Regions from separate parts of the Homo sapiens genome. Here region 1 is reported to be linked to region 2. The links are microRNA targets in miRTarBase. Many come from high-throughput screens and were not tested one by one. Region 2 holds a microRNA gene; the other region holds the end of a gene's coding sequence.
What was found. The annotated mature microRNA hsa-miR-550a-5p reads AGUGCCUGAGGGAGUAAGAGCCC and lies in region 2 at 4,495-4,517, opposite strand. An mRNA with a match to its seed (bases 2 to 7 or 8) in the 3' UTR can be bound and repressed. Matches are read on the target gene's strand: a 7mer-m8 pairs with bases 2 to 8, a 7mer-A1 pairs with bases 2 to 7 and ends in A, and an 8mer does both.

Region 1: the mRNA of CDCA7 is a reported target of hsa-miR-550a-5p. Seed matches in the 3' UTR shown: 7mer-A1 at 7,568-7,574 and 8mer at 7,156-7,163.

The regions. Positions count from the first base shown.
Region 1 is chr2:173,366,711-173,375,721 of GRCh38, reverse strand. It overlaps CDCA7 (cell division cycle associated 7), which reads right to left. Exons shown (of 10, transcript NM_031942.5): 9 at 8,436-8,572; 10 at 6,725-8,088. The coding sequence ends at 8,058. Among named protein-coding and RNA genes, the nearest start is that of CDCA7, 16 kb to the right of the region's middle. RefSeq lists an enhancer at 5,274-5,373.
Region 2 is chr7:30,285,321-30,294,331 of GRCh38, reverse strand. MIR550A1 (microRNA 550a-1) reads right to left here and starts at 4,538; the gene lies at 4,442-4,538. ZNRF2 (zinc and ring finger 2) reads right to left here. Exons shown (of 5, transcript NM_147128.4): 1 at 8,506-9,011. The coding sequence starts at 8,974. It overlaps MIR550B1 (microRNA 550b-1), which reads left to right and starts at 4,442; the gene lies at 4,442-4,538. LOC105375218 (a long non-coding RNA gene) reads left to right here and starts at 8,247. Exons shown (of 4, transcript NR_136267.1): 1 at 8,247-8,272. RefSeq lists silencers at 8,490-8,619, 8,770-8,849, 8,930-9,011.

The sequences.
Region 1 (9,011 bases), not on the chromosome of region 2:
TAACAGGTCGGTGGTTGCTTAGACCTAGGGGAAGCAGGGATGAGAGGTAGGGATAATAGCTAAAGGATACAGGGTTTCTTCCTGAGGTGCTGAAAATGTTCTAAAGTTGACAGTAGTGATGGTTGTACATATCTGTGGATATGCTAAAAACCATTGATTGCATTCTTTAATGGAGCATTTCAAATGTTTGTATGGTATGTGAATTATATCTCTATAAAGCTGTTAAAAATAAAAGTGGAAAATCCACAGAAATGGGAGAAAATAATTGCAAATCACATATCTGCTAAAGATCTAATATCCAGAATATATTAACTCTTAAACTCAAAACAAAAAGAAAAGAACCCAATTTAAAATGGGCAAAGGGTCTGAACACAGTAGCTCACGCCTGTAATCCCAGTGCTTTGGGAGGCCAAGTGGGAGGATCGCTTGAGCCCAAGAGTTTGAGGCTGCAGTCAGCTATGCTCATGCCACTGTACTCCAGCCTGGGTGACAGAGCAAGACCCTGTCTCTTAAATAAACAAATAAATAAAATGGGCAAAGGGCTGAAGTAGACTTTTTTCCAAAGATAATCTAATGGCCAACAAGTACATAAAAGTATGCTCTACATCATCTGTCATTAAGGAATGGAATCCAAAATCACAATGAGATACCATTTCATGCCTACTAGGATGTCTATAAAACAAACACACAAACCAGAAAATAACAAGTGTTGGCAAGGACGTGGAGAAACTGGAGCCCTCACACATTACTAGTGGAAATGTAAAATGGTGCAGCCACTAAGAAAAAGTTTGGTAGCTCCTCAGAAAGTTAAACATACAATTACCATATGATTCAGTGATTCCACTCCTAGGTATATACCAAAGAGTACTGAAATTAGGTGTTCAAACTAAAATGTGTAAGTGAAATGTTCATAGCCGCACTATTCACACTAGCCAAAAGGTGAAAACAACCAAAATGTCCACCAACTGATATATGGATAAATTGTGGTATATCCATACAATGGAATATTTGGGCATGAAGAGGAATAAAATGATGATACATACAACATGGATGAATCTTATTTATTAATTTTTTTTTTAACACGGAGTCTCGCTCTTGTCACCCAGGCTGGAGTGCCATGGTGCAGTCTAGGCTCGTTAGAACCTCTGCCTCCCGAGTTCCAGCGATTCTCATGCCTCAGCCTCCCAAGTAGCTGGGATTACAGGCACCTGCCACCATGCCTGGTTAATTTTTATATTTTTAGTAGAGATGGGGTTTCACCATGTTGACCAGGCTGGTCTGAAACTCCTGACTCAAGTGATCCACCTGCCTCGGCCTCCCAAAGTGCTGGGAGTACAGGCATGAGCCACTGCACCCGGCCTAACATGAATGAATTAGTAAGTGAAAGGACCCTGCTTGGTGTCGTAGCTCATGCTTGTAATTCCCAGCTACCTGGGAGGCTGAGGTGACATGATTGCTTAAGTCCAGGAGTTCCAGGATGCAGTGAGCTGTGATCACACACTGCTGCACTCAACCCTGAGTGACACAGTAAGACCCTGTCTGTTTAGAAAAACAAAAAAGCCAGATACAAAAAGCAACATATTGTATGTTTCCAAATGTCCAGCATATAAGCAAATCCAGAGACAGAAAGCAATAGGTTCTCATGGGTTGGAGAGAGGAAAAAAAGGAGTGACTTTTTAATGGGTACGAGGTTTCTTCTGGGAGTGATGAAAATGTTCTAGTGTTACATAGTGATGATGGTTGCACAACATTGTGAATGTACTGGAAGCCACCTAGTTGTATACTTTGAAAGGGTTAAAGTGGTAAATTTTATGTTATGTGAATTTTACTACAATTTTTTTAAACGTTGGCGGAAAAAAAGCAACAAAAAGCTGAACAATAGGCAGAACCTAGCAAGCTTGATATTGAATTATTTCCAAACCCAGTTCTCTGGTCAAGCAAAGTTGCAATAGAACTTTTCCCTTACCAGGGGCAGCTCTCTAGCTGAGTCCCAAATCCTGCCTTGCTAAAATCAATTAATAGAGTTCTTGGTGTCTGCCCTAATCATCATGCACAGAAAAAATTTAGTTAATATCCTTTTCTCCCTCCCCAACACTGAAAAATAAGATAAATAGAATCTATCTCCATAATTTTACTTACTCATTTAGTTCAGTAGCATCTGTTTATCATGATTTACAAGAATTTGGCTGGCAATGAGAGTTGCAGAAAGCATTTGCATAAAGGAATTTTATTTACATATTTTTCCTCCTTAAGCACTAGGGTACTCGAAATGGTCACATCTTGGAAATTCAGGCAAGTGCCAGTGGTGATTACCAGTTTAAAAAAAAAAAAAAAAAAAAAACAGGCCATGCATAGTGGCTCACGGCTGTAATCCCAGCACTTTGGGAAGCTGAGGGCAGGTGGATCACCTGAGGTCAGGAGTTCAAGACCAGCCTGGCCAACATGGGGCGAAAACCTGTGTCTACTAAAAATACAAAAATTAGCCGGGTGTGGTGGCGGGCGCCTGTAATCCCAGCTACTCGGGAGGCTGAGGCAGGAGAATCACTTGAACCTGGGAGGCGGAGGTTGCAGTGAGCCGAGATTGTGCCACTGTACTCCAGCCTGGGACAAAGCGAGACTCCATCTCAAAAAAACACAGTGGATGGTCATTAAGCAGTGAAAAACATTTATAGCTATTCAATTTAGAAGACAAACTTAAGGATTAGTCTATTAAAGTATGGAAAACCAAATAAAAATAAAACTGAAATACTGGTTCCTGTTGATATGGCTTGCCTACTAAGTGTGTGAGGAGAGGAAATTTTACTTTTTTTTTTTTTTTTTTTTTTGAGACTGAGTCTGGCTGTTGCCCAGGCTGGAGAGCAGTGGCACAATCTCTGCTCATGGCAACTTCCGCCTCCCAGGTTCAAATGATTCTCCTGCTTCTCCTGCCTCAGCCTCCCGAGTAGCTGGGATTACAGGTACACACCACCACACCTGTCTAATTTTTGTATTTTTAGTAGAGACTGGGTTGGGTTTCACCATTTTGGCCAGGCTGGTCCCAAACTCCTGACCTCAAGTGATTCGCCCACCTTGGCCTCCCAAAGTGCTGGGATTACAGGTGTGAGCCACTGAGCCCGGCTGAAATTTGACTTTCCTAGCATAAGCCCACAGAATAGTCTGTCCTTGGGCATTTGACTAGAACAGAAAACAATTATCTACAATATTTTTTTTCCTCTGAAACTCTAAAGCTTAATTCCATGTTCGTACTTGTGAGTACTGATTATAACTTCAGAATTCTTTTTTTTTTCTTTTGAGTCAGAGTCTCGCTCTCTTGCTGAGGATGGAGTGCAATGGCACGATCTTGGCTCACTGCAGCCTCCACCTCCCAGGTTCAAGCAATCCTTGAGCCTCAGCCTCCCAAGTAGCTGAGATTACAGGTGTGCCACCAGGCCTGGCTAATTTTTGTATTTTTAGTAGAGATGGGGTTTCACCATGTTGGCCAGGCTGGTCTCAAACTCATGACCTCAGGTGATCCACCCCCCTCGGCCTCTCAAAGTGCTGGGATTACAGGCATGAGCCACTGCTCCCGGCCAGAATTCTTTGTATAATAAAATTATGTTTATCTCCCATATATATAGTTAAGTGAAAAAGGCAGGGTAAAAAGAGTATGTAGTAAGTAGTATGCTACCATTTATCTGAAAGGCAATAGGAGGCTAACAAGGCCTAATTTTTTATTTTTTGTAGAGACAGGGTCTCACTATGTTGCCCAGGATGGTTTTGAACTCCTGGGCTCAAGCAATCCTCCCGCCTCAGCTTCCCAAAGTGCTGGGATTATAGGTATGAGCCAACCGCGCCCAGCCTAATTATACTGAAGCCATATTATATGTACTATAATTCTGTGTTACTATATAATTATTATGTAATTATAATTTTATATTACATATTAATTTGATATTATATATTTTAATATATAACTATATTATATAATTTAAATATACAATTTTATATTCTATATTATATGTATTATACTATATACATATTATAATTCTGAAGCCATATGTATACATAGCCACATTATTTTTACATATAAATACCAATATGTATATGTATGCATGTGTATACATGTATATATACACAAATATACTAACAATTAATAGATAGATATAAAAGAAATGTTTTGAAAGCAAAGCACTTGGGAGAAATGGCTGACTCCAGGCTTAGGGTAGAGAATGTGTAAGAGTGAGCCTGTAACATTGGATCTTACCAGAAAACAAAAGAAGCTACCAAAGACCACACTGGGGCCAAATTTTAATGCTAATAGTTGCATATGTAGTGTAAGTGCTACCATACAAAACAAAATACAGATTAGAAAAAAACAAAATGTTCATGGCTTTCAGCTTTGAGTGGTATCTCTTTTGTTCCTTGCTCCTTCCCTCAAATGCTTACATCACCTGGATGTTATAACAGATAAAGGACTTTCTCTGGAATGTGCCAGTTCCTCTGCAACCAGGAGTCCATCCCTTACAGTCCCAGTCAGATTGCTGGCTCTTTATTGCCACCCCAAGCTCTAGTCCCTCTTCCGTTGTCTCACAGCAACGGCTCCTAGAAAGTTTTCTTGCCCCCTGCTTTTCCTCCTCCTTCCCCAACCTTGTAGTTATCTAAGGAGTCCTCTCCACCCACAGGATTCCCATGCCCTTCAGTTAAAACCTCGGGGGTTTCTAACATCCATGTAGGATCATCCAAAGCCCTGGTTTCCTACTGTCCCACTGCCTCATTCCTTCTGAACCTGCTCTCCACCCATCTTCGCCCCCAGTGCAACCCCCTGATCCACACAAACGCTCAGACCCCTTCCAGCCCTGCCAGCCTCCCTGTTCAGCAGGGTTTCTACAGTAAGCCACATCAGCCAGGCTGTACCCAGCACCCAAGATGCCCTTGTTCTCCCTGCCAGAACCTTATCAACAACCCGCTCTTCTTTGACTCCTAAGGCAAAGTCAGCTTAAAGAGGGAAAAAAAGAATAAAGTCCTCTCTCTGGTGTTTGGCCTAGCTTTGCCTCTTTGGAGCTGTGTGATACTGGGCATTTTTCTCAACTTATCTGGATTTACTTCCCCATTCTTTCAGACATCTAATGGATGTGAGGTTAGCATTAACATAAAACCTCCTATTCCCCTCAGGACTGAGTACCTAATACTGTCCCCATACTCCCATCTTCTCCTAAAGCACTGAGACCTCTAGTTCCATTCTCCCAGTGACCTCATTTCCTTCCTGGGGCAATCAGAAGTCCCCTCTCACTTTCTTCTAAAAGCAAAATGAAACAAAAACAAAACCTTCCAGCAAAACCCTCTAACTGCAGCCTTTGCCCTTCATTGTGAAAGCCTTTTTAGTTCGTATGTCATTTCTTAACTCCTAAGTAAGAATCAAAACGTAAATACCATCTCTACCTCAGAAAACTCTACCTCAGGTTGAAGAAACAAATATGAAAGCAGTTCCTGGGGCACAGCCACCCTAACACCATTTTTTGCAGCTAGCTGTGAAAACCGGAGTTCTCTCCACTCAGGATGGCCTGTGGAGCTCTGCAGTGGGCCCCGTGGGCTCCCACAGTCAAGGCTGAGGCTGAGCAACTGACCTAAGGCTCCTTATTATAAAATGGGATCATCACAAAACCCAGGAGCTCACCCATGTTTTAAAATGTCTGGTGATGGGAAAATGCCAATTTGTTTTTTTCCCTTCATTCCTGCTGAGAACATTATTTTTGGGTTTTCATCTTAGTTCCCCCATTAGATTGTAAATCCTTTAAGGATAAGGCATCCAAATCAACTGTTACAGTTAATTTTTAATGAAAACCACCATTAGTTCTACTTCCTATTAAAACATGGTATCACCTGAACTTTTCCAAATAAGCATCAATTTATATGAACTCTAAACATTTAAGCTTCCCAATTACATATCCAATAAGGTTGGATTATAATTTGGGTTAAGATCCAAAAAGTTTACAAAAACAAAGTTACTGATTTCTTTTGGATCTACACAGAATACCAGTTGTACAATTTCACTTAGCTTGTTCTTCTCCCCAGATGAGCATGGGGTAAACATGGCTTCTCAAATAACTCTAGAGCAGACACAGTAAACTTTTTCTGTAAAGTGCCAGGTTGTAAATATCTTAGGTTTTGTGAACCATATTGTCTCTGCTTATTTAACAACCCTTTCCAAATGGAAAAAAAAATACTTAGTTCATATGCCATACGAATAAACTCTGCAGCAGCATGTAGCCCACAGGCTGTAGTTTGCCAATCCCTGGTCTAAAGAATTGGACAGCCGGTGTGGTGGTGGCTCTTGCCTGTGACTTTGGGAGGCCAAGGCAGGAGGATCCCTTGAGCCCAGGAGTTTGAAACCAGCCTGAGCAACATAGCAAGACCTGTCTCTACAAAAAATAAAAAAAGAATTGGGCTATGAGAGCTTTTAGACCATGCCTTTTTTGTTGATTCTCACAGTCCTGGAACAAGCCTCAAGGCACAGCATGCATTTAATATATGTTTGAATGGTTGATAAAAGTAAGCCAGGTATTGCAAAGCACATCATAAAGGAAAAGAAAACACTACAAAACTTCATGGGCACATATTGTTTTCTATCAGGCACTGTGGTTGTCTCCGCCCGTTTTCTGATCACAGGTATTAGTCCTGTCACCTAGTGAGGTCCTTTCAAACAAGCTGACCTTAGAACTTCAGAAACTTCAGTCAAAAGGGAGACTTTTTTAGAAAAGGTGGAAATGGCCTTTTATTTAAATATGAGGAAAAAATTAGAATTAAGTACAGTAAGATTATTTTTAAAAAAGCAGACAAGTTAGAACAAACATTTTATTATTAAAATAAACTTTTGTATAAAAGCATTACAGATCAAAAGCTGTATTTACACTTATCGATTCAAGGTCCAATTATGCATCAAACATTGAATGGCACAGCAATGGTTTACATATGCAAGTAAATTGGACATACAAACACTTAGATTCCACCTCTACCAAATACCTTGATTAATGCAAAGAGGAGGGGGAATACTGACACAGGAAACCTGCCCAGAAACTAGACTGGCAGAGATGTCAGGTTAACAAACTGCTAAAAGTTACATCTCCAAAAAGGCACTTATCATTGTTATAAAAGTGCTTAAAATCTAAACTTGAACCTTGTGCCTGGTTTATAAATTTACAAGAAACTGCAAAGAACCACAGACTAGTTTTTAATATCAAGTTTCCATACAAAATTGTCCAAGAATTTATTTGCAATACCTTACATGTGAACTGAAATAAACTTTGCAAACTACAATTATACTAAAGTTTTATACTGAAAATTCAAATCAGCTTACTCATAATCTCCAGATAGCTCTTCCATCATTATTTTAATTAAGTATTACATTGCCCACCAACCTTTGAATTATGATTGTGTAAGCTGGACGCACCACTTACCCTTCGGGCAGAAGAAATTAGGAGAAATTAAGTCTCAACTGTGACAACAACTTGTAACATAAGCGCAATACATGGGATTGAGAGACATCAATCTGCAATAATTACCTAATTTTTCCACATGGTTTTAAGACTTTTGTGCCTTGATTCTATTAAAAATTTCAACTAGTATGAATGCTAAATCATACTCGTTTTTGTGTAAACAAGTTAGAAGGCTCTTCTCTGAAATTCAATAGATCTAGTTAGTTAATACTATTATTGTGTTTCCAAGTGCTTAGGTTTTATGAGGGCTATTTCAACACCAAGTAAATAAAATATGCTTTCATAAAACTGTAATTTAAAAGAAATTCAGAAACTAAGCGGTTGGAGAGGAGCATTGGAAATAGAGGGGGATGCTGTGAGATGGGGGTTGGGAGCAGAGAAGAAACTGCAGGAGGGCAAAGTGTAACTAGCAATATACCTTCTGTGATGCTCCAGAAACACATGTCTGCTAAGATTAACTTGATTGGAGTTTCTTATGAAACAGGCTGATCATCAAGATTTTTAACTCAGGTTTCAGTGAAAAAATTGGAAACTTTTACAAGAAAGATTTGAGAAGTAGAAGGCAGGCAGCAAATTTTCCAGATATTATGCTTGCATTTCAAATTCCTGTTTCAGGCTGTGAAAAACAAAAGGAAATGTGTCAGGACATAGTTTTCAACCAAAGAATTCTCTTTTGAAAGCCTAATTCATTTTTAAAACCATTTTTATTGAGTTATAACATCACTATGGTCAAGTGTGCGCATCTTCAAGTATATTACCTGACTTTTTCATACACACCCACCCACCCGGGTTACCACCACCTAAGTGAAGACAGAAAATGTTCCCATCCCTTCCAGTGTGCCCCGTTCCAGTCAGTCTCCACCCCGCCAGAGATAACCACTCTTCTGACATCTATCATCTTCTCATTAAGACATAAATGAATATAAAATTCAGATGTGGAAGGGAAAAAAAAACACCCACTACCTTTTCAAGTAGGCATGCACATTCCCAAAGCCATGATATTTGGCTAAATACACAAGGACCCCAGTCGCACACCGTCCATCTCGCTGCCGGCAGAAACTGCAGTTGCAGATTCCTCGACAAGGCGGGCAATGCCAGTTCTGAAGGAGGATTGTCAAACGGCACAATTAAGTTAAACCTTACCTCCCCCACCAACTTATCTACATTACATTTAACCCCTTCTTTATGGTTAAAAATTTATATGATTAATAGGCATTAGTCATGCCTAATGTTTCCTAATGCCTAATGCTTCCTTCCAGGAGTGGAAGTTACAAGCAGCTACCAGGGATAAATGGAGCAGCAACTTCCCAGGGACAGTTCAGACCCGAGTATCGTAGAAGCGGCTCATGCCTATGCAGCACCATCCCTCTGAATTCATTTGTGTTCTGAATTAAGAGCACCCTGGGCCGGGCGTGGTGGCTCACACCTGTAATCCCAGCACTTCAGGAGGCCGAGGCGGGTGGATCACGAGGTCAAGAGATCTTGTACCACCACACCATCCTGGCCAATGTGGTGAAACCCCGTCTCTACTAAAAATAC
Region 2 (9,011 bases):
CTCAATGATAATGAAAATGGTAAGTATCCAAAGCTTTGGGAAGTGACTATATGTAACAAGAAGTAAACACAGCCTTAAACGCTTTTATCATTAAAAAATAATAAATAAAAAATAAAAGAAGCTAAGAGAAAGAACAAAATTAACTTTACAAAATGAGAACGAACAGAATAGAGGTAACAGTAGAAAAAATTAAAAACCAACAAAAATAGCAAAATGTGTTGTTCAAACTGAGCACTGGCTCTCTGAAACATATTACACATAATCCTGCCTGGGCAATATAGCGAGACCCTGTTCTCCACAAAAAGGAAAGAAAAAAAAGACAATAAAAATAAAAATAAATAACCCATTATGTATGCATGGCTTCATTCTTCTTTTTTTCCTCAGCTCACATATAAATAGGTAAATTAAAGAACTATTACAGACTAATCACAATTCAAGCAAAAATTAGGATATTCCACATGGTCGGAACTTATGAAATTCAAATGACTGAATACATCTATAATTTTCTGACACACTAATATTTTCGTCGCTAAAAAAAGAGCCCTGAATGAAATAATGACTCTGATAGGTGACATTACTCGAAATATATCCACCAATCTGCACTTATAAATATCAAAAACCTCACAAGTTTTTATGGGTTAAAAAATTTTACGTAGTCCCAAAGATTATACCTTGCTAGAAGCTGTTTCCATCTCTAATGAGCAATTTGGCAATAAAGATCCAATGCCTTGAACAAAAGTGTATCTTTGTTTCTGGCAATCCCATGTCGCTGATAAATTTCTAAGAACTGGCCGGGCACTCAGGCCTGTAATCCCAGCACTTTGGGAGGCTGAGGTGGGCGAATCACTTGAGGCCAAGAGCTCAAGACTAGCCTGGCCAACATGGCAAAACCCAGTCTCTACTAAAAATACAAAAATTAGTGAGGCATGGTGGTGCACACCTGTAATCCCAGCTACTTGGGAGGCTGGGGCACAAGAATCACTTGAACCTGGGAGGCAGAGGTTGCAGTGAGCCAAGATCGCACTACTGCACTGTAGCCTGGGTGACAGAGCAAGACTCCATCCCAAAAAAAAAAAAAAAAAATGTAAAAATTTGCTTACCAGGGTGTTCATGGCAACAGTATTTTATTACATCTGTACCAAACAAACAAAATGCTCAACCATAAGGAACAACGAAATAAATCCTTGACTCTTCATTTTCTCTCATACCTCCACATCTAATCCAGGTGGCTCTATCTTCAAAACACGGGATATGCAGAATCTGGCCACTGCTTAGCACCTCCAGCACTGCCACCCAGTCCAAGCCACTGTTATCTTTCATCTGGATTTTTGCCTCCTTGCTGACTCTTGCCACCTCACACAATAGCCAGAGTAATCCTTTAAAACCCAAGTCAGATTATGTCAATCCTCTGCACAAAAATACTCCCCATCCCTCTTTAAAACAAAAGCCGCAAACCACAGGTCAGTGGTTATGAGGCAGTTTATGATTCTGTCCCAACCTCATGCCACCCCACTATGCTCTCATCTTCTACAGCCCTCTGCACTCCAGCTGTAAGTAAACCTACATATCAGGTACACTCATGCCTCAGGGCCTTTATAGTTACTGCTCCCTGTGCCTGAATATGTTTTTACCCCAGAGATCCTCATGACTTGCTCCTTCACTTTCTGCTTGAATTGTCACCTTGTCAGTGAGGTCATCCTTAAAACCCGATTTAAAATAGCAACTATAGATAGGCCTCCACCCCAGAATCTCTATCAGCCTTTGCACTCCATTTTTTTTCCATTACACTCAATGCCCTAACACACTATGTATTTTACTTGTCTGTTTACTATCTCTCCCAAATAGAATAATAAGGCCCCTAAAAGCAGGGATTTTTATCTTATTTCTTCACTGCTGTACCCCCAGAATAGTGTCCGGAAAAGCGCGTCCTCATTAAATATTTGAGTGATTTTTGGAATACTGGGTAATAATTAAAAATCATGTTATAAAAAATTTTAATGTGATGTTAGAAACTGGTGGAAATGGAAACAGCATGTTATCAAAGAATATGTAACCCATGGATCAAGAAGAAATCATATGGGAAATTAAAATACATTTTTCACTGAATGTTAACAAGAACACTTCAACATCAGTGGGATTCAGGTAAAGCAATTCTTGGAGGAAAATGTGTAGCTTTAAAACTTTGTATTAGAACATCAGAAAGGTTAAAATCAAAACAATATAAAAATGAATGTTCCAAATTTTGTGTCTAAAACAAATACATATATAAAAGACATTAACAGTTATTTCTGGTGGTAAAATTACAAGCAATTTGCGATTTTTATACCTGCTTTTCCGTATGTTAGTTTTTCTCTAGTGAACAGGTATTATTTTTATAATTAAAAAAAAACCCAGGTTTTTAAAAAACTTCCTTTCCCTCTGGTTGAATTCTAACTGCTGGCCTCTTCCTCTCCCTGTCTCTTAAAATACTTGCTCCTCTGGATTCCATCCTTGTCCTTCGTCAATCTATATTCATCCCTTAGTAATCTTATCCACTTTCTGGATTCATTTATAACTTGCAAATTGATTTCTCAGTTTTTTGTAATATCCTGAATTAGAGACTCATGTTTCCAACCACTTAAAGTATACTTCTATCCAGATGAAAATCCTGTAGCCACTCAAATTTAACAGGCCTGAAAGGAACTCATTATCATTTCCTAAAACTTGTTCTTTTCATCTTTAATACTGGTTAAAGACATCACTATGTACCCAGGTCAATTCTATCAGTTCTAGCTTAGAAATCTCAATCAAATCTAACTTTTCTTCTCCCTCACCAATGCCATGTTTTCAACATAGGCATCTTCTATCAGTTATATTTTAAAAGAATCCTAACTTATTCTCCTGCTATCACACTCTCCTCCTTAAGAACTGAATCCTGATCAGGGTTGCTGCATACAGCCTGAAGTCTGCACCACTAGAGAAGGTTGCCATCCATGTAAACTACGAGTGTTAATTGTGCCCAATGGCCTAATCATGATACTCCCCCTGCTTTCAAACTTCATTAGATAAAACAAACCTACAGCACTATAAAATCTTTCAACTGGCTCCACTTTCTATTTTTCTAGCTTCAGGTTCTCATCATTCCTCTATGCACCCTACAATCCAGACATATTTAACTTTTCAGTATGCCCTATCAAAACCCACACTTTTGTGGATTTTTCTTTAGTCTGTACTGCCCTCTCTCCGTACAACTTCTAAATCCTTCAAACTACAGTTCAAACGTACCCTCCTCTGTGAAGCATTTTTTGACCAGCCTAGACAAAGATACTTCACTAAGTGTTTTGTTAACAGTTCTATTACAGAATTTGTTGCATTGTATAATGATCACATATATCCATCTCTCAAATTCAATGGAGAGTTGAGCAGTGCATAAAGAAGCTCCATATTTGTACCCTCAGTATCTATAATGTCCAGCCCCTAAAAGGGGTTAAGTTCATGTTTATTAATGCTATACTTAACCATATGCATTAGTACAACTTTTTAAAAGTAAATTAAAATGAGTTTAAAAAAGAAGTTACATGTTCAGCTGTCAATCTATCTATAATCCATGTGGCAGAAAGAACTGATGTGACTATTCTTGATTCCTACACTTCCTGGTGTTTAAACCTTTGTATAATTCCCTCCCCTTGCACGTGAACTGGACCTATGACTTGCTTCTAATGAATGAAATACAGCAAAGGCAATGGGTTGTATGTGATTACATGTACACGATTATGTAAGAACATAGCACCAGTTCACCTTTCCTTTGCTTACTTTGAAGAAGCAAGCTGCTCTGAACCTAACAGACACAAGGAAATAAATTCAGCCAATAACCCAAGGAAGTCTGTGGGCAGACCTTTCCCCAGTTGAGTCACTAGATAACAACCCTGCCCTGACCTACACTTTGACTGCAGTCTTAAAGAGGACACAGCTAAGTTGTGCCCAGCCTCTTGACCCACAGAAATTGCAAGGCAATAAACGTGTTGCTTAGAACCACTAAATTTGCAGTCATTTGTGAATAAGCAGCTTAGAAAACGAATAAAATCAGAACCTAAGGTATTTCTGAACCCTTTGTTCACAAAAAGGCCTATGTTTTGTCCAATTTCTTAACAAATAAATGTCATGTACATGCAAAATTAAAACACAGACTAACATTTCAAATAACAGTTCTTAAGAATATTCACATAAAACTTAGGAAGTAATTTGCTACATAAAGCAGTTCCTACACTCTCTTTTAACACATTTGCCAATATACCCAATTATACATAATACTACATGTAATAAGTTTAATATTAGGGCAATTCTCCTTAAAACCCAAATAATAATAAATAGTTTAAAAGTTGATATCTCATTAATGATATTTGGTAATCAGAAGAACTTAGTTACTGGTCACCAGGCAAAGCGATCAAATTGGAGGAGAGCAAGAGACTTGTTGGAGATGTGCCTGAGGGAGTAAGACACTATCTTACAACAACAGGGCTCTTACTCCCTCAGGCACTGCACCAGCCAGCAAAGCATCAAAATACCAGGTTCTTAGGTCACGCTGCTCTCAGATCAGGTGATGCCCTGTGCAACTCACCAATCCTCCCCACCTTGCAGTCAAGAATAATTCCAAAAAATTCCCAAAGCAGAAACTTCCATGACACAGGCCACACTTACACACAGCAAAACATGTAACACGAAGGTATGAAATTACAAGTGAGGAACAATAACCACCAAAATTCTTATTACTTCAGGAGTGGCAGGGGTTGTGGTTAGAAGGCTCATTTTTCTTAGAAAGAGGCAAACATTCCTCTTCGGCCACTCCCCATAAAAGCCTTCAATGGCACAAAATAACATTCAGGAATAGGAAATAGATTAATTACAATATCCCAAATTCAAACATTTTGGCACTTGATATTGGTAAGAAGTGATAACTGAGACCGATTCCATAATGGTTAATTGATGAAGATAACCTAACACCATAAAACTTCACATCTGCCTTAAAAATTAAGAGAAATCTTCCTAGAAATACAGGTCTTATTCAACATATTCAGTTTTAAGAGATAACCCACACTCCTTCAATATAAGAAAACATGTTTCACAAGTAGCAAGGCACCTGAGTTACAATCAGACTACTGAAATACTCATGAGCAAGCCACACCCAAAAAAGCTCAAGAAAATCAGGAGGCCAAAAGCAACCCAGCACCACTGGTTGTCTTAGATTAAGTCATTTTACATTTTCACTTCTGGACTCAAGGATACATTATAGAAGTCCACACGATTTCTCTGGAAATAATCTCCATGTATTGGTATATTTCTATAGCCCAATTCATCTACCCCATCCTTGCTGCATCATTAAAGGCTATTTGACCACTCATATTATGCTCTTATGAACAACAGCTACTTGACAGTGGAAAAAAAAACGTAGACGTAAATTAAAGCCAAACAAACCCTAAAATACCATCAACATTTTTAAATATTAGGAAATACCCTTAAGACCTGTTTTAAAACAAAGGTGATGGACGACACTAGCAGTAGTCAAGAAAGCGTCTGTTCACTTTAACACTCCTCAGTCTGAAAAGAATAATAAGGACAAGATTTACTTCACCTAAAAACTCCTATATAAATATAATCACATTCTGATGTCTGGCAACTCAATTCTAGGAAATTTCTACACACTGAAATATCTGGATTAGGCATTTTTCTTCCAGTTCTCTAGAGAGAATAAGAGTGTATATAGCCAAAACAGATGTCCAAATGACATCAAAACATAAAACCAACACAGAAAACTTCCTCGTTCAATGTGGCAATTCATTATGAGAGAACTACTAACAATTCCACTTGCTAGACTCTTAAGTGTTAAAAATAAAAGGGGGGGACTGTTTTTCATTTTCTATAAATTACATGAGAGCTCACAAGAGAATAATTTTGAATCTTATTAGTACCACATTTTCTTATTAGGAGACGTTAATAATATAAACAACAATTAAAACAACAGTTTTACAAAAAACAATACGAACTTTCCACTAATTCTGAAATAATCCTTTTATCAATTTTCAGATGCAGTTATTTGTATATAACCATTTATACAATTTGTAACTGAATAAACACAATAATGTTATAATAGATACTAAAAAGTTAAGTAAATGTGAACTAGTCAAGTCTTTTTTAATTATAAGATTCTTCATTTAGCTCCCTAAATCTCAAGATGATGAGAAACATGCTTCTATTGTTTTCCTAATAACCCGTCCACTAAAATATAGGTAAAAATCTCAGTAAGGCAATGCCACTAAGATGGGTTTTTACGTAAATGTATTCCATCTCCCTGCCTCAACAGAGATTTCAGGATGTGGCACTTTCATCTGATCCTGTCATATAATAAGAACAGGTAATTTCTCTGATGTCTTTCCAGCAATTCTCAACTGAGGTTCCTCATCTGAATCACCAAACACAGGAAATTATTTCAGTGACTTTTCTCAATTGTTCCAAGAATGATACATAACTAAAACCGTTCTAAATGCACTGGAGCTAAAAGTTAAAATTCATTGCACACTACGGCACAATTGTCTCCAGAAAGCCGGGTGAGAAAGGCTGCTGTAAGTTCCTCAGAAAGTGTCACTGTACTACTAGGCCCCAGTCACCCAACCCCAACAGCACTAAAAGAACTATAATGAGTGCACAAATCTAGAACTTAGATAAGAAAAAAGATAAATGCTTTATCTCCAACTTTAAGCAACTAGGTATTTTTACTTACTAGGAATAGCATGGGGCTCAACTGTCTCTTGCTCTGAATAGAATGCATTTACTTAACAAAATAAACCCACAGAACTATAATGTTTCTCAAAGGGAATTATCAGCTCTTAGAAAATGAATTTTTAGAAATCAGCATATTAAATAAATATTAACTATTAACTTGACAAGGCTTTTCCTATTCACCCTTCTTTAGCAAACTTAAATATTCATCTTCTAATAATTGCTAAATGCAAATTTTCACTTTAAAAAGATAATGATAAACATTAAAAACCAGTTTGCCCTTCATTCTCGCACTAATCACCAATTCTCAGAAACTGCCTTTTATATTCTTCAGTGCGGACTACAGCAACTTCAACTGTTAGGTTAGTTGTGATCAAATCACTTTAAGGACACCAGTAGAGTTCTTTTACTCAAAATCAAAAGCAAATGACTTTTAAAAATAGCCCAATTTTAAGAGGGATGAATATTTTTAAGAAGCAAAAATTACTTTAAAACAAGGTAGCTAATTAAAAGTCAAGCGTCGTTCCAATTGAATTTGCAAAGCGTTACTAAAAAAATGGGAAAAATGAAACATGACATTCCTGTTTTTAATTTATGCTGGCGTGTGTGCTGATAGTACAGAACATGAGAACGGATAAATTACTACGTATTCCACTTTACTAAGTCTCCAAAGTTCCTACGTTTACAAATATATAAGTAAAAGCGGCACAAAAATGTAGGGGATCGTGTTTTCGCTGCTCATCTGTGCTCAGTTGCTAATTTTTCTAATACCAGATACATAATGCGATGAAATGGGAATGCTTATCTTCTATACTTCTATTTATTTTCATAAAGGGGAGAGGGGAGGTGGTCTTGATTCATTTACTATTAGCGTTTTGCAATAAAGTAGATCAGCATAAAACATAACTGAAGAAGTAGGATTCATTTTCCCCAGGACAACGCACACTTCCTCCTGTTTCTGTAGTAAAGTACATCACTTTGCTATTAAAAATGTCCATTTTTCACAACTGACTTTTCCTTAACTCTAGTCAACACTGCTCTTCAAAAGAACCTAGCCAATTATTGTACCTTGAAGACAGATGTGCAAAATTTTTACTTCCTTAAGAAACTTTTCCATTTTTTAAATGCTTTCCAAATTAAGCAGGACTCACATTAACTGTGATCTTAAGTAGCAGTTTAGTGAGGTTTAAAAACAAACTTTTCATTAACGCATTCATCCAATTAAAATGACATAGTAACTGGGACTACTGACACAGATTTCAGGATTACAGCTTTATACTAAAAGTCGGTCCAAACATGGTAACTCAGTGTTCATTTGAGACGCTTTGACTTTTGGCCTTTAAAAACTGTTCCCCACTCGAGTCCCCAGATAGAACTACATTTAGCAACTGGTCTCCTCCTGACTTCCTGGTACTAAAAACCACAACCACAAGGGCTGTTTCGTCGGTTTGTTGTAAAACAACATTTGCTCCAGTCATCTCACTGGAAAATAGACTTTCTCTACTGGGCAGCCGCTGAGGTGAGGGTGCTCAGGATGTTTAAAAACAAAACCACGCGTCTATGCGGTAGCGGCACCGCCGGTGTTAAGCGCCGGGTTTCTTCCAGGATGGAGACCGACGCGGGCTGGTCCGGGAGGCAGCCCCCGGCGCCCCGGCAGAAGGAGAAAAGGAGAAGGGTAAAAATAGCCGGCGGCCACGGCCCACGTGCAGCCGCGGGAGGACCGAGCGCGGGTGCGCGGAGAGGGGTCCGTACCTCCAAACATGTGCGGCGAGAGGTGAGCTGGTAAGGAGCCGATCACCAGGCGCGGCCCGCCGGGGCTCCCGCCCACCGGCCGGTCCCGGCCGCCGCCGCCGTCCTCAGGGCTGCTGTGCACCGAGTCCTGCGAGCCGTACGGGCCGCTGCTGCTGTTCGGGATGCTGAAGGGGGACTGCGCCGCGCGGGCCCCCGACGCCACGCTCCCCACGGCCCCGCCGAGGGAGCGGCTGCGCGGGGCCGCCGGGGCTGCCGGGGCCGCCGCGGCCGCCGCGGCGCCGCCGGAGGCGCTGGGCTGGTGCGCGCTGGGCACCTGAGCCGGGAACCTCCCCGCGGCGGCGGCCCGAGCGCCCCCGCCGCCGCCCGCGGTCCCATTGGCGCCTCCGCTGCTACTGGAAGGTAGATCCGAGCCCGAGTACGCGCGCGTGCGGCCGTTAGCGGCGGCCGGGCCGCTCTGTTTGGCGCCCATGTCCGCCCTGCCCCGGGCCGGGCCCGCGCGCTGCGCC